Linked DNA regions of Homo sapiens: region 2 is reported to be linked to region 1. Evidence: microRNA targets listed by miRTarBase, many of them from high-throughput screens and not tested one by one. Region 1 holds a microRNA gene; the other region holds the end of a gene's coding sequence.
The links. The annotated mature microRNA hsa-miR-205-5p reads UCCUUCAUUCCACCGGAGUCUG and lies in region 1 at 5,915-5,936, shown strand. An mRNA with a match to its seed (bases 2 to 7 or 8) in the 3' UTR can be bound and repressed. Matches are read on the target gene's strand: a 7mer-m8 pairs with bases 2 to 8, a 7mer-A1 pairs with bases 2 to 7 and ends in A, and an 8mer does both.

Region 2: the mRNA of MDH2 is a reported target of hsa-miR-205-5p. Seed matches in the 3' UTR shown: 7mer-m8 at 1,269-1,275.

What each region holds. Positions count from the first base shown.
Region 1 is chr1:209,426,252-209,434,645 of GRCh38, forward strand. It overlaps MIR205 (microRNA 205), which reads left to right and starts at 5,882; the gene lies at 5,882-5,991. MIR205HG (MIR205 host gene) reads left to right here and starts at 2,569. Exons shown (of 4, transcript NR_145437.1): 1 at 2,569-2,837; 2 at 2,930-3,157; 3 at 4,174-4,225; 4 at 5,953-6,298. RefSeq lists enhancers at 1,567-2,490, 6,723-7,320, 7,321-7,920.
Region 2 is chr7:76,065,176-76,073,466 of GRCh38, forward strand. MDH2 (malate dehydrogenase 2) reads left to right here. Exons shown (of 9, transcript NM_005918.4): 9 at 1,104-2,333. The coding sequence ends at 1,235. Among named protein-coding and RNA genes, the nearest start is that of MDH2, 21 kb to the left of the region's middle. RefSeq lists enhancers at 124-193, 224-273, 6,049-6,573.

The DNA.
Region 1 (8,394 bases):
CTGGATGACTCTGCGGAATGCCTCTCAGAGACACGGAACTAGAAACCTAGGGGAAGAGGGACATCAAGGCTTTTGCCTCACAAGCTGACTCTGGAACAAAGAGCCAGGCTGAGGGGCTGGAAGAAGAAACTTCCAGCAGAGCCACCCAGATATGCTTCCCCCACCCTCTAGACCTTCCACACCAACCAGTGTCCAGTCAGTCCACAGAGCATCCTCCTGGGCTGTGGTGACTGAAGTTGAAGGGAAGAAAATATAATAATAATTTTGGGCAGGTCGTCTTTCTTTACTGTATTGGATGGATATAGAATCAATAAATCTATAGGTTTATCCCATTTTTCTGAACAAATTTAGAGGTCAAAGATGAACCCTCAAGGGGACAGAATATGACCAGCAGGACTATTGATATCGTCTGCCCTAGGCACTCCTCCTTACCCTCCTCTCCCCTATATTTTGGGGGCAGTCATATTCCTCAGCAGTCAGTTGCTCTGCCTCCAGTCCTAACTGGCTTCTGAAAAACAGTTCTGGTCCATTCATTCCCTGTCTCGAGACTTCCGGAGCTTCCTGACCTGTGAATGAAATCCACAGGCCCATCACAAGATGGCTGCGCTCTCCAGTCCCCGGCACCCCAGGCTGCTCTGAACATGTGAGAGCTCCTCCCTCAAGGCCTGAATTTTCGCAGGTCTTCATCACACTCAGCCCGCCATCATTTTTTCAGATTCAGTTCCAATATGTCACTCTGTCTGTAGAGCCTTCCCTGAATCTCACAGACAAATGCGGCAGTTCCCTTTGTGGGGGATATTCATCATGTTTTTCCTCATTGGCCTATGTTTTTGCCTCTTCTTGTAGATGTCCATCTAGGCTGGGAGCTCCTAGGGGGTAAACGCAGCCTCTCACTCACCTGGCACAGAGTCGATGCTCATGGAATGATACGTGATGGGGAGAGTGAGTAAGTGAATGAATGAATGAATGCTATTCTGGAAGGAAGAGGGAGAGAGGGAGCAGGGAAAGGTCAGAAGGGGGCCCAGAGTCTTCAGCACACAATGTGGGTGTATCACTGTGGCCAGGAACAATTCGCTTCTCTGCCTGCATTACTTTTTGGGAAATGGGAGAGCTGAGGCTCAGTGTAGGCAAACTGGGTCCAGTCAGCAGGGAAGCCATGAGCTCCACGGTTTAGGGGAGGAGTCCGGTGCTTAAGGAAGCTATCACGTGGAAGATCTCCCTGCCCTCCTCCTATTGGTCTGTATTGGTTTTTCTTCTTCACCAGTGGAGGCTTTTCTTCTCCCAGGAAGAATCCAGAATAGTTCAGACAAGCTTCAGGTCCGCCAGAACCGGGGAAAACAACGTGTAGGGTTTGTTTTAAAGGGCTTTTAAATGGGGTTTGGGAGATCCAGGTAGATTAGAATCTTGACTCTGCACTGGCTGTGCAAGACAGAAATTCACCTTTCAAAACTTCTGTTCCCCAGTCTATGCGGTAAGAAGTTTAGATTAGCTGATTTCTAGGGAGATTTTGGGCAGGCATGATTCAGTTCCATGAAGGGCTGTGGGACAGGACTGCACTAAGAGGTCCTATAGATTGGATTCTTCAGTTCCCTCCCTTCCGCTGGAGAATAGAGGAATCTGCCTTCGCTGCACACTAGATTTACCTGGAGAACAAATGGAAAGCAGGCCAGGATCCTGGGTGAAATGTGGCACATTTGAGGAGACTTCAACTTCCCTTGCCCTCCAGGTGTGCACTTGGAAGGGGGAACGAGGGAGGGGGAAGCTGGCAAGATGGGCCGAGAGATAGGGGAGGGGCAGGAGGCGGAGCCCAAGTTGCGCATGGAAGCGGGGGTGGGGTAAAATAATCAAGTTTATAGACCGCCCTCTTTAAAGTTACTAATGAGCTTGCCTTCTCTTTCCTTAATTTCCCCTCGCAGTGTGGTCTTTTCCCCACCCCCAGACATGAAAGGGAAGCAGGTCACAAAGCCTTTCGGATTATAAAAGAAACACTTGCTTCTCACAAGGGGAGCAGCAGACTTACTCTGTACTAAATGCCAGGATAAGCCTCTGGCTGGGCCTCGACTGTGACCCTCCGGCCTCTTTCTACAGCTCTGCCTGGATGGACTGGCCTATCTCTGCTGGATTCCCGAAGTGCATTGTGTAGAGACAGCAACTCAGGTCAGGCTAAAAGCTCAAGCAAGCAAGCGCGCACACACACGCGCGCACACACACACACACACACACAAACACTCAGCTTCCTTAGGACAAGATAAAATCTTAGCATTCCCCTCTCCCCGATTAGGTAGGTCTCTGGGAGGACTAAGGCTTCAGGTGCAAGGCTCAGATAACCTGCAGTGTCTCTCCAACTCTGGGATGACAAAGACCTCACTTCCCTTTTCTGGTGTTCACACAACAATGAGAAAGTACGGGTAGCCTGCAGAAAGACCTCTCCATTCATGGTCCCCCAGGGGTGTGGGTTCTGAGAGGTGGGACCAGCTGCCAGGCCCTTTCTCCATTGGTTGAGTTCAGCAGGTAACCTGAAGCTTTGCTGAGAGGTGCATAAATAAAGAGTGAAACTAGTACCACCTCCTTGAAATGGGCTGAGTCCCTCTTGCTCACCCTTGACTTGGAAAAACCAGTTTCTCTTTTATTGTCTGTTACTAATCTCTATTCTAAAAATTCAGCTCAATTCTCAACCATACTCCAAACTCTCTCTTTTCCAGCTACCTTTACTCCCTCTCCTTCAATTCCACTTTCCTCTGCTTACTTTTTTTTTTTTTCTGACAGGGTCTCACTTTGTCGCCCGGGCAGGAGTGCAGTGGCTCAATCTTGGGCTCACTGCAGCCTCAACCTCCCAGGTTCAAGCGATTCTCCTGCCTCAGCCCCTCAAGTAGCTGGGACTACAAGCGCACACCACCACGCCTGACTAATTTTTTGTATTTTTTTGTAGAGGCGGGGTTTCACCATGTTGCCCAGACTGGTCTTGAACTCCTGAGCTTAAGCAATCCACCTGCCTCGGCCTCCCAAAGTGTTGGGATCACAGGCGTGAGCCACCGCATCCGGCCTCATGTTCTTTTTCATTAAAGAGAGAAATCAACTATTCAGGACCGGCCCCCACCTTTCCTCAGGAGTCATTTCTGTTCCGCACAGGCCTGCTGAACTGGGTGCTTTATATAGGGTAAGTGTTTCTCATTTTTTGTTCCCTGTCCTCAAGCCTTAGGGGCAAAAGAAACATCCAAGATTTGAAATTTCTTTTCTTCTTCTCATCTGCATGGCTGTAGCCATCTCTCTGTTCTGCATTATCTTATGACAAAAAAAAAAAATTCTTATTTTGAAGCAAACTCAAAGCTAGGTCCTGATGTCTCAAGGCACAGGTACTCGTACTTAAAGGTGAGTCTGAAATCTGTGGATTTGGGGAACTTTGGAAAAACAAAGATGAGTGGCTAGATCAGGGGGCTCATTGGGCAGGAAGAGGAGACTGGAAAATGCCATATTCACTGCAAGTCAATTATCAACTTCCTCCAAGGCTAAAATAGCTGAACCTGCTGCATTTTAAACCAATCCTCAGCCACTTTGGTGTTTTCTCAAGGATTTCCAGGGATCCCAGGCAGTAAATTCTGCTGATAATAGGAATTGGTGTGATAAGGTGGGTGCTGAGCAGTTTAAGCACCAAGATTGTAGCTCTGTCTGGTTTTGTGGAGATTTACTCAACTAGAAGAACAGAGATTTGGCTGGTTTTTCAGTCCTGGGGTGCAGGGTGCACCTGTACTGGAAAATTTAGGACGTGGTTTCATTCTTTGAGTCTCATGTTCAAGTTGGTTTTAATGTTATGAAGACACTTGGGACGTAATCCTGAGGGCAGCTGGGGGGAAGAAAGTGGTCACTGGATGGACTTACCCTGTAGCGAGCCCATGCATGGTTTGTTCTCTGATCGTGCATGTGCTTGGCTCTAGACCCATGTAACCATGGTGAAGGCCACTGGGGGATTCAGTTGGCAAAGGCATAGTGGGCAGAAGAATCTTGAACAAGGAGTCCAGAGCAGGTCAAGTCTCCTGATACAGGTTGTGACTCATGGTTTTTTGTCTCTGCCTGTAGCAGCTACAGGTCTGTAAAGCAAGGGGAGAGTGATAAGGAAAGAACTCACCTTTCTGGGGCTCTCTGACATTAATGCCACCTCCCATTTGCTTTTTGCAGACACTGTCATCTCTCAAGTACCCATCTTGGAGGGTACGGACCCCACATGAGGGTGAGGCTCTCTGCACACTCCAGAGTGAGGACTTTAATAATCTAGTGGACTGTACATGTTGGGAGGGGAAGAGCGGGGTGCCGAGGGTCTGGAGGGAGAAGAATTGACTGCCCCTTTTGCTCTTGGAGTTAAGCAGAAATCTAAAGAGAAGGCAAAGAATCTTGCCTTCCTGGCATCATTTCCTCCTACCATCCCAGGCCATCATTTATTTATTACAGCCAACAGACTGGCCTCTTTCTTCCCTTTGACTGGGAATGGGTCAAAGGCGGTGCAGGAGGAGGATCTGGTCCAGATAATTCACAAGCAGGGTGCATTTTCCTCTCATTATTGAGAACTGTGAGTGTTTATCAAGAAGGCAGAGCAGGAGAAGATGAACCAGTCTTCTTCCCCTCACTACCCAGATCTCTGCCTGCCAACAAGCCCCGTGTTCACCCTGGCAAAGAGTCTTTACATTCAGACCAAGGAGAGTGTGACTCCTTCTCAGCACTAGCTAGAAACCTCAAGCCCTTGCTTAAGGGCCTTTTTCAGAGAGACCCAATGCCCAGAAGGCTAGATGCGTGGGGAGGAGCCACATACGAGAAACTGCCTCCCTGCTTCGGGTCAGAACAAGCCCCAGGAAGAAAGTATTTCAAACAACAAGGTGCATCTGCCCCAACCCATCCAGCCTGCATGTTGGTGCTGAGAACAGCCTTTTATGGGGCTTGCACTGAGCCATGGGCATGTCTGAACACAACAAGGAAGAGGCCAGAGCAGCAACAGCACGCAAAGGGTTGATGGGCATTTCTTTTAAGACAGAGCAGAAAACTCTTAGATACTTTGCGTCCTTCCTATTTGACTCAGTCTATGAAAGCCAGGTTAGCTTGCTTTCTTCCTCCCTAAATCCTCCATCCTCATGACCAACAAAGAAATAGTTGAATCATTTTCCAGGCACATCTTGGGGAGGATGTGGGGCCATTGGAGGCTGTCCTTCCTAGATAAGTCTTTAGGAGTGAGAACAAGGAGTCTTACCCTCCTCTGTCCACCCACCCCCATGAATGGGCCTGGCTCCAGCCAGGAGTTGTGGTTTTTCCTGAGCTCCTCACCTATCTCTTCTGGATTTCACATTGGCAAACGGGGTTGCAAAGTGCTCTTCGTGCTCTTTGGACAGTGCCTTGTGGAGAGGAATGCCCATGCCCCTGCATTCCAAGGCCTTGGTAAGCAAGCTCAGAGTAGCTGGATTTTTCTAAAGCAATTGCAGAACACCTGCTTTTTCTTTGTTTCCTCTAGAAAGGACCAACCACACCGAGCTCAGTTATGGCACACACAGTGGGACCTAGACAAAGGGAGAGGGTGACCGACATCCCAACTAGGTAAACACAGAGGAGGTTCCACATGGACTTATCTGGGTGGCTGTTTTGAAAACGAGAAACAGTCAAGAGTCCCTGGCCCCACAGACCCACCTCCCCAACTCAGCACTGTCTGTCTGTGCAGCAGGTGCAAGGACGTGTTGAACTAGCTCTCTGCAGCCTCCTTGGAGGATGTGATCCTATGGGAGGGGTAGGAGTATTCAGGTCCTTGACATCTCCCAAATGTGTGATTCCGGGATGCCAAAGGCCTTTGGCCAGGTAATGCAGTGTCTACAGGCTGAGGTTGACATGCATCCCCACCCTCTGAGAAAAAGATCCTCAGACAATCCATGTGCTTCTCTTGTCCTTCATTCCACCGGAGTCTGTCTCATACCCAACCAGATTTCAGTGGAGTGAAGTTCAGGAGGCATGGAGCTGACAACCATGAGGCCTCGGCAGCCACCGCCACCACCGCCGCCGCCACCACCGTAGCAGCAGCAGCAGCAGCAGCAGCAGCAGCAGCAGCAGCAAGAGTAACTCTGACTTAGGAATAGAGACAGCCAGAGAGAAATGTGATCAATGAAGGAGACATCTGGAGTGTGCGTGCTTCTTCAGAGGGACGGGTGATGGGCAGATTGGAAAAAGCACCGCAGATGGGAACCTTAATCTTTCTTTTCTAAAATTGATGCTATGAAAATTTGCGTTTTCTGTAACTTGTAAAAACTAAAAGTTGCTTGTCTACTGAAAAGCCTCTCTGCCTCTATGTTTTATACCATCGGATGCCAACTCCCGGCCTTCTAAGCCACCTCCCCTTTAGGCTAAAACTGAGACATGAACTTGAAAAATTGACACTGGCTTCCTCTCTCTTTAGGGTCCCCAGGCAGGTGGCTGGGACACTATTTGCAATCAGCAAGGAACCCTGCTGCCCTTAGACTCCCCACAGAGCAAGCAGAACTTGCAGAATGGGGTAAAAACACTCTATTAAAGATTTTTTAAACCTATTTATATTGTAATAAAGTAAATGTAAATAAAATTTAAGTGAAGGCAGATTGCAGATATTTCCGATGCTATACAAGATATATCTCATAGTATGGGTGTAGATTCTGCAAAGGTTAATGCAGTTAAACATATTTGACACATAAAAATGTCAGATCCAACATTAATCATTCACCAATTGTAATTGCCTTTCTATGGGTCTCTTCTCCCCAAGACATAGCTTAAAACACCAGGCTCGGTAGAAATCTGGGAGGAAAAAAGCAAATAATACCTCTCAGCTGTCAGGGTCTATGATACGCTTTGATAGATTTAGCACTGATTTCATTCTCTTTACAATTCAGTGTGATTGGGTGTGCGTGTGTGTGTGTGTGTGTGTGTGTGTGTGTGTGTGTGTTACTCCATGTTTCTCCTTTTTAAGGAAGGAGAAGGTGTGGAACAAGAGAAAGTTCCTAAGTCTGAAGGAAGTCCAACCCAGTTATGAAGGGAATGCCATCCACAAGCCTTTTTTATAATTGGCCCCTGCCTCAGGTAAAGGGGTCTCCTTTAAGGAGCCAGTCTGGCTAAATTGGCAGATTCTGAACAAAGCCTGGCCCTGACAAGTCTTCAGAAAAACCGGTTTTCACCTCCAGAATGTGCCCCAGGCAGCAAAATACAATAGCTCTCCTTGGCTGAGTGGTGTTTTTCTTAGGAGCTCACTCTAAAGGAGATTCCAGCTTTGCAGATGGATACCGATCACTTGAATGGCCAAGCCCTGCCCCCCAGCCAGTGACCTCTGAGGGGGATAGGTCTCTTCACCTTCCCCCAACCCTTCCCTGGTTTTTGACCCCTGAGGGTCCCAGATTGCCAGCAGGAACTAAAAGGAATAAACCTTTCTCCAAAATATTTTTCTGTGTCAAGTTAATACAGATTTAAAACCTAGTTTCTGTCACCCCCACCCCTTCATTCCAAGACCCACAGGCAACAAAAGGATGAAGAAGCCAAGCCACAGGCATTTTTTAAAAACATGTTTACTCATAAAAATTGCGTAGCAAATCCAACTGTGGGGTGCTGTTTGTCCAGCAAACTCCTAGTTAACCAGCAAACACCTCCCATTCAAGGTCTGAAACAAGCCCTGAGATCAGAACAAAAAGCACACGACAGACACGATGTGGCACTTTTATTTGCAGCTTGGTTTGAGCCCTATGACCTGGAATCTTTTTATAGGAGATAAGTGCTTGTGTATTTATGTGCCACCTGGCCCAGGTGGAGGCAGGAACCAAAATGGCCAACAATGGTGACCAGAGGGTAGACTGTCAAACACTAGCCAGGGCACAATGCTGTGACTACAAAAGGTTCTACCTGATGTGCTGTTGGGTTCCCCCACACCCAAAGTCCCATGCAAATGCTATCTTCACAAGAGAGGCACAGGGCTTGGTATTTCTGGCACCAAGGTCTGAACTGCCCACTTCCTCCCACCAATGCAGCACAGATTGCTTATTCCCTCTTGCAGAAAAAGAAAGCCCCAAGCCTGGCCCAGAGCAGCTTGCCAGGGAAGCCAGTGTGTGCCCAGAGCTGGAGCAAGCTGCTCATCCATCTTCTATGTCCAACCCCCACTCTTTTATGTCTCATGTCTTCATTGCAAAGCATGACTCGCCAAAAACACAACACAGAGAAAATGGTTTCATCAAAATTCCCTTGCAACAACAACAACAACAAAATAATATTACCCTGCTTTCATTATTCACAATCTTTTATTGAGGCAAAAGGCAAATATCATTGAGCCAAACCTGGATAGACAAATATATACAACCACTGGTAATTTAATATTTTGTGCTAATGGTATACACTGTAGATACAACCCAAGAGGAG
Region 2 (8,291 bases), not on the chromosome of region 1:
TTGACAGCGGGTGCCCAGCAGCTGCAGGAGTATTGACTGATAAGACACTCCATCTCCAGGCAGCCCAGGGAGGCCTCCCTACCCCGCCTGAACACCTCCCTGTCGCTCCTTGTTCATCTTGTTCTGACTGCGGGGGGCGGCCAGGCCCAATTCCTCTTCGAGAGTGTGCCCCATCCAGACAGCCTGAGTCTTCAGCAAACAGAAACCCTTAGGTCTTACTCATACCCCCTCAAGCCGAGTTTCCATTTCTCACCTGTGGGCAGAAATGAGGCAGATGTGTGGTTGCCTTCATCACGTGGCCAGAAAGTAATATGGCTCACTGGGCCACCCCAGGACCTTTCTCAGAGATGCTCCGATACAGAAAGATCCTTCAGCTATGGCCCCAGGCCTTGGTGAGAGACAGGCACTCGATGGTATAGTTCTGTCCCCATGTCGGTGCAGGTGTATGGAATGGCAGGGCCTGCAGGTGAGACGCACCCGGTTCTCATAGGCCCTTGAGCCAGGGGAAGCAGTAGGAGGGAATTGAGTTGAGGTGAGGACTGAGGCTGTTGCCACACAAACTGTGCTCAGTTTCTGCAGGTGAGACGGTGGCAGAGATGCCTGTTTTTGCCAATGTCAGACATTTACCTACTTAGTGACACCTGATTCAGGTGACTGTGACAATGTTTTCAGTCCTTTACCAACCTGCGGGGAGAGACAAGAACCCAGAAACAGGCTCTGTTGGGGAGAATACGGTGAAGTGTTCCTGATGATTGAGTTCCTGGCGTCCAGGTGCTTGTCGCATTGTCCTCGTGTTCACGAAGGTGGATGGTGCTTGTTTTATAGCTAAGGAAACACATTTGGAAGGTCAGTCATTGTCCAGGGTACCTGCCTAGACAATCACAGTGCTGGGACCCCTGCCTGGCACCCTCTGGCTCTGAGCCTCGCACTCCTGACCGCAGCTCAGTCCCACCCACCTGCTCAGCAAGGCGTCCCCAGCAAGGCACCCAGAACCCGCATGTGTAGAGAGACTCCTCGGCAGGGCTGATGGAGCGACAGGTCGGGGTTTCTCTAACAAGCACTTTCCTGGAAACTTCATTTTAACATGTTCCCATCTCCCTCAGAAAAAGGGCATCGAGAAGAACCTGGGCATCGGCAAAGTCTCCTCTTTTGAGGAGAAGATGATCTCGGATGCCATCCCCGAGCTGAAGGCCTCCATCAAGAAGGGGGAAGATTTCGTGAAGACCCTGAAGTGAGCCGCTGTGACGGGTGGCCAGTTTCCTTAATTTATGAAGGCATCATGTCACTGCAAAGCCGTTGCAGATAAACTTTGTATTTTAATTTGCTTTGGTGATGATTACTGTATTGACATCATCATGCCTTCCAAATTGTGGGTGGCTCTGTGGGCGCATCAATAAAAGCCGTCCTTGATTTTATTTTTCAAGGTCCCTTCTGTAAATGCTGTGCTTTCTTCCCTGTGAGAGCCAACTTTAGAGTGTCTGCTACCTCTTCATTACCAATCAGAATTAGATGATGTTTAACTGTTAGACTGAAGCGTGACGCTTTCATCAGTAGCTTCAAGAAAGTCTAAATTGTTAATTTATGGAATTGGACACAGTATTCAGTTTACCCGTACATGCTCCTCCCGCCCCTCCTGTTGGCACCCTTGCATCGCCCAGGCCTGATTCCTCCTGGGGGTAGTTCACCCCCACGGGTTCATAGTTCAGCGGCGAATGCCAGGCAGCTGTTTTCTGGCTGAGCAAACAGCACCTTTCTCATTGAGCTTCCTCTACTGACCTCTGTCCCCCTTGGGATTTCATCTTCTGACCGAACCCTGATGTTCAGTGGCAGAGACAGCCCATAGCCAGAACTGTGGGTAGACCAGGGTTGGGGTGTGCGGTTTGGGACAGCCCAAACCCCAGCCGCTGTGTCAAGGCCTAGGACGCCATGCTGCCATCAAAAGGGGGTTCCAGGTTTCCATCAGTGGCCTAAAGAAGGGACTTCTTGTTGTACTGAGGAGTGCGGAATTAAAGAGATTTGACTCCCTTTAGTATTGGGGGCAGTCCGTTCCCCAGACACTGTGGCCTCTGAAGTGGAAACTGAAAGCTGCATACCTGGGAAAGAACTTTCTAGGAATAGGCAATGGCCTTCAGTGGAAGAGGGAGGGCTGGAGGTGTGCCCAGTACTTGGATGTTCATCTGTCCACAACAGCTTTTTGTTTTTTTAAAAAAGCTAAAATGGAAATGGATTTTATCATAAAGGATGACATCGTTTTCTTCTACAATTAATACATGTTCATTGTATAAAACCCAAAAAGCAGCTAAAAAATAAAGCGGGAAAGGAACTACTGGTAATACTTGTCCTCTCTTGCATATTTCATAGGTTGAGAGAATGAAGCCTGCTCTGCAGGTTATCTGCTACTGTAACAATCCCAGCCCTCTCCACTCTGGTGGCTTTTAGGCTATTTCTGTTCCTATCTCCCGACGCTGGGGGTTGACAGGACTCAGCTGGGTGGTTACATGCCCACAGCTCCCACTGCAGTCACTGGAGGCTTGGCTGGACTGGAGCACGCGAGGCTGGTGTTTGGGAGATGCCCGGACAGCTGGCCTTTTCCCCGAGGTCTTGGGCCTCTCATTCTTCACAACGCATCTACAGCAAGGTCCATATGTTTGTTGAATGACTCAGTTCCCACAAGCAAAAGCAGAAGCTGCCAGGCTCTAAGGCTTGGGCTGAGAACTGGCCCAGCTTCGCTTGCGCTGCATTCTCTAGGTTAGAGTAAGTTACAAGGCCCCCAATGACATGGGCAGGAACCACACAAGGGTGTGGCTGCGGGAGACCTGACTCTGATGGCCATTTATGGAGATGAGCTGCCCCCCACTTCTTTCACTGTGTGTATTTGCCCTTGTCACTTTTCTAAATTTTTCTTTAGAGACAGGGTCTCTGTCGCACAGGCTGGAGTGCAGTGGTGTGATCATGGCTCACTGCAGCCTCCAACCCCTGGGCTCAAGCGATCCTCCCACCTCAGCCTCCCCAGTAGCTGGGACTATGGGTGCCTGCCACCACGCCCGGCTAATTTTATAATTTTTTGTAGAGACCGGGGTGGGGGTGACCGGGCGCGGTGGCTCACGCCTGTAATCCCAGCACTTTGGGAGGCCGAGGCAGGCAGATCACGAGGTCAGGAGATCGAGACCATCCTGGCTAACACGGTGAAACCCCTTCTCTACTAAAAATACAAAAAATTAGCTGGGCGTGGTGGCGGGTGCCTATAGTCCCACCTCCTCAGGAGGCTGAGGCAGGAGAATGGCATGAACCTGGGGGGCGAAGCTTGCAGTGAGCCAAGATTGCACCACTGCACTCCAGCCTGGGCGACAGAGCCAGACTCCGTCTCAAAAAAAAAAAAAAAAACAAGATATCAGGGTGGGAGGACTTGCTCTGTTGCCCAGGCTGGTCCTCCTGGCCTCAATCAATCCTCCCACCTCGGCCTCCCAAAGTGTTGGGATTACACGCATGAGCCACTGTGCCCTGCCATTCTTTTCACAGCTGGATAACCTTGAGGGTGGATAATTCGGTGTTTTTGTTTTTCACTGCTGTAGAGAGCAGAACTCTGAGCGTGGTACTTTAGCATTGTTTCCTCCTGGTGGTTCTATATGCAGAGCACTATGCTGGCTGTATTTGGGGTACATTTGCCATTTTATGGGATCCTTGCAACAACCCTGACAGGACCTGGGACTCAAGCTAAGTCAGGTTGTGTCTTGGTTGAGGGTGGTCACTACCTCTCTCCATAAACCAGGGGCTACCCCTTAAGAACCTCCCAGAGAGTTCACTCAGGATACTCCCACTAAGGTGGGAGGACTGCTTGAGCCCAGGAGCTTGAGGTTGCTGTGAGCTGTGACTGTGCCACTACACTCCAGCCTGGGAGACAGAGAGAGACCTGTCCCAAAAAAAAAAAAAAAAAAAAAAAAAAGCGCATTTCTGGTTCCATCTCAGAAATTCAGCTCTAGCATCCTAAAGGGAGGACCTGGAATGTAGAATATCCTAGATTCTTTCAGATGATGATGAAGGGGCCTGGAGATACTGGCCGTCCCTGGGCTATTCACCCTCTAGCTCCTGCCTTCCAGGGCTAAAGACGAGTCAGGTACTGAGAATCCACAAGACAAACACAGAGGAAGTACCGTGGGACTCCAGAGGAGGGCAAGGTTACTTCATGTCTTGGCAGAGCATCAAGGAGGACTTCCCCTATCAAGATCTCTAGGAGGAGGGAAAAGGAGGAGGAGGAGATGGCATACGCTCTGGCTCTGCAGGCTGGGCAGGATTTCAACCAGCAGGGAGGGTGGGATGGGCGTCATAGGCAGCTGCCGGAGCAGACAGGCTGAAGAGCTTGTGGATGGCAGGAACAGGGCGTCCCAGGAGCTGAGCAGGATGGTGACACGGTGGCCAAGGCTGCTCACACTCCACCAAGGACGGGTTGGCAGGGGGGTCCCTGGAGCCTGCTGCTGGGCCCAGATTCTGATTTTTTTAATTTAAATTTTTATTTTATTTTGAGACGGAGTCTTGCTCTGTCGCCCAAGCTGGAGTGCAGTGGTGTGATCTCGGCTCACTGCAACCTCTCTGGCCCAGGTTCAAGCAGTTCTGCCTCAGCCTCCCAAGTAGATGGGACTACATGCACGCCACTACCACAGCCAGATAATTTTTGTATAGTAGATGGGGTTTCTCCATGTTGGTCAAGCTGGTCTCAAACTCCTAACCTCAAGTAATCTGCCCGCCTTGCCCTCCCAAAGTGCTGGGATTACAGGCGTGAGCCACCGCACCCGGCCCAGATTCTGCATTTTCTAGTCAGCTTCCCAGCAATGCCTGAGCTGCAGGTGCACACGAACTAGGAGTGACGTGAAGGCAGGGACCACTCGGATGCTAAAGACCAGAGATGGGGTGGTGGTGAGTAGGAGGGGGGATGATAGGGACATGGAGGAGAAACAGCATCTCCCAGCACCATTTCTGCCACCCAGAACTCCATCAGGAAGTTGTCAGTGTGGATGAAACTCACCACACGTCTACTTCCAAGCTCCAATTATCCGTCCTCCCATCCTTCTGGCCACCTCCTCACACAGAACTCCTGTCCTCCTCTGTGAGGAAAAAAAGACCAGTGGCTGCATGTATGGTGTTAAGGACCAAAATGATGTGGCCAAGGCCTTTGCCACGGGAAGCCAAGAACCAGTCTTTGTTTTTTGTTTTGTTGAGACGGAGTCTCGCTTTGTCGCCCAGGCTGGAGCGCAGTGGCAAGCTCTCGGCTCACTGCAACCTCTGTGTTATGAGTAAAATGTTTATTCAGAAACAAAATGCTTCTTCCCCAGTACTGCAAGGAAAAATCAGCATTTAGACAAAGAAGTTTTCTCAGTAAGGTAATTTTACTTTCTGGAGAAAAGAGGGAAGCAATTTTTATCCTTTATGCAGCTTGTCCTTGCTACTGTGTGTTGTCTCCATTGACTGGAGCTAGAAATTACAATTTAAACTGAACCTGATTGGCTAACAACTTAAAACACTGCTAAATAGGTAAAACTAATGGAGAATAAAGAAAAAGAGGAAGTTGCTTATGAAAAGACATAGAAAAGTTATAACATTTCCTGCCGGACGCGGTGGCTCACACCTGTAATCCCAGCAGTTTGGGAGGCTGAGGTGGGCGGATCACGAGGTCAGGAGATCGAGGCCATCCTGGCTAACACGGTGAAACCGTGTCTCTACTAAAAAAATACAAAAAATTAGCTGGGCATGGTGGCACACGCCTGTAGTCCCAGCTACTTGGGAGGGTGAGGCAGGTGAATCGCTTGAACCTGGGAGGCAGAGGTTGCAGGGAGCTGAGACTGTGCCACTGCACCCCAGCCTGGGCAACAGAGTGAGAGACTGTCAAAAAAAAAAAAAAAAGGACATTCCAAAATAAGGAACGCAGCAAGCTAAGACATCCCTGTGAGCACAGCCAGCAAACATACCTTGGTTTAAGTACAAGAACATAGACTGTACTATGTGCCTGTAAGCATGTGTAGCACAAATATATTGTTTAAAGTACAAGGACATAGACTGTACTTACTCTTTTCTATCTAACAGCTACACAGTATAGGGCTTAACAGTTATTAGCACAAAGCAAGGAGGTCTCAAGGAAGCTAATTTTTAAAAAATTATTTCTAAAACTTATGATTTATTCTTTATGAAGAAGGGAAACTTTGAAAAGGAAACTTTTAACATTGTACACTCCGCCTCACGGGATCAAGAAATTCTCCTGCCTTAGCCTCCCGAGCAGCTGGGATTACTGGCACCCACGGAGAAACCGCTGTCAGGCAGTGGCTGGGACTCTTCAGGCCGCCAGGGAGCCGAAGGCGGGGCCTGAGAGGCCTCACTTCGAGGAGCCTGGGGCCTACAAAGGCTGCCAGGAGCTGGGCAGGAGCTGGGCCGAACGTGGCTGTTGCGAGGCAGGAGCTGGGCCGGCAGGCGCAGCCGGCAAGGAGAGCTGGGCCTGGAGAGGCTGGCTGGAAACACTTCTGGGCCTGGAGAGGATGGCCAGAGGCGAGAGCCGGGCCCGTGGAGGCTGCCCACAGGCAGAACACGAGCCTGGCCTGAGGCGGCCATGCTGAGGCAAGAGCTGGGCCTGGTGGGGGTCCACTGTGAGGAGGCAGAGGCCGTGCCTCAAGTCCAGGGGCCTACGACAGGCAGGAGCTGGGCCTGGCGAGGCCGACTTCAGGACACTTTGGGCCCGCACAGGCCATCGGCCGGGGGGCAGCAGCTGGGCCCTGGAGGGGCCCACTTGAGAAACCCTTGGCCGGGAGACGCCGTCGGGGCGGGCGGGAGCTGGGCCTGGAGAGGCCACCGTGAGGCTTGAGCTGGACCTCCAGAGCCCAGTGAGAGGCATGCGATGGGCTTGTCGAGGCCGCTGGGAGGCTGGCAGGAACACGGCCGGGGAAGGCCACCGTGAGGCAAGATCTGGCCCCGGGGAGGCCACTGCGAGGCCACAGGTGGGCCTGGAGAGCTGGGCTGGAGGAGGTTTTGGTCGTACGAATGCTGCCGGGATCTGGGCACGAGCCGAGTCAGAAGCAGCTGTCTGCAGGCTGGGGCTGGGCATGGAGGCGCAGCCGCGAGAGAGTGCTGGGCCTGGAGAGTAGGCTGGGAGGCAGCCACCGGGCCGTGGTGGTGGCTTGCCAACTTGGGCCTGCAGAGGCTGCCACGAGGGAAAAGCCGGGCCTCTGAAAGAGGCCGTTCAGAGGGATGAGCCAGGCCTAAAGAGGTCATCGGGATGCAGGAGCCGGGCCTGCGGAGGCCGCCAAAAAGCAGGAGCCTGGCCTGGGGGAGGTCACGGTGAGGCACGAGATGAGCCCAAAGAGGCCGTCGGGAGGCAAGAGCCAGGTCTGTCGGGGCTGCCGCGAGGCAGGTGGCAACGTGGCCTGGGGAGACCGACGTGAGGCACGAGCCGGGCCCGGAGAGGCCGCTGTCACGAGGAGCTGCGCCTCTCCAGGCCGCCGGGGAGCCGAAGGTGGGGCCTGAGAGGCCTCACTTCGAGGAGCCTGGGGCCTACAAAGGCTGCCAGGAGCTGGGCAGGAGCTGAGCCGAACGTGGCTGTTGCGAGGCAGGAGCTGGGCCGGCAGGCGCAGCCGGGAGGGAGAGCTGGGCCTGGAGAGGCTGGCTGGAAACAGTTCTGGGCCTGGAGAGGCTGGCTGGAAACACTTCTGGGCCTGGAGAGGATGGCCAGAGGCGAGAGCTGGGCCCGTGGAGGCTGCCCACAGGCAGAACACAAGCCTGGCCTGAGGCGGCCACGCTGAGGCAAGAGCTGGGCCTGGCGGGGGTCCACTGTGAGGAGGCAGAGGCCGTGCCTCAAGTCCAGAGGCCTACGACAGGCAGGAGCTGGGCCTGGCGAGGCCAACTTCAAGACGCTTTGGGTTTGCACAGGCCATTGGTTGGGGTGCAGCAGCTGGGCCCTGGAGGGGCCCACTTGAAATAGCCTTGGGCCAGGAGATGCTGTTGGGGCGGGCGGCAGCTGGGCCTGGAGAGGCCACCGTGAGGCGTCAGCTGGGCCTCAAGAGCCCAGTGTGAGGCAGGCGCTGGGCTTGTCGAGGCCGCCGGGAGGCCGGCAGGAACACGGACGGGGAAGGCCGCCGTGAGGCAAGAGCTGGGCCCGGGGAGGCTGCTGCGAGGCCACTGGTGGGCCTGGAGAGCTGGGCTGGAGGAGGTTTCGGGCCTACGAAGGCCGCCGGGATCTGGGCACAAACCGAGTCAGAAGCGGCTGTCTGCAGGTGGGGGTTGGGCCTGGAGGTGCAGCCGCGAGAGAGCGCTGG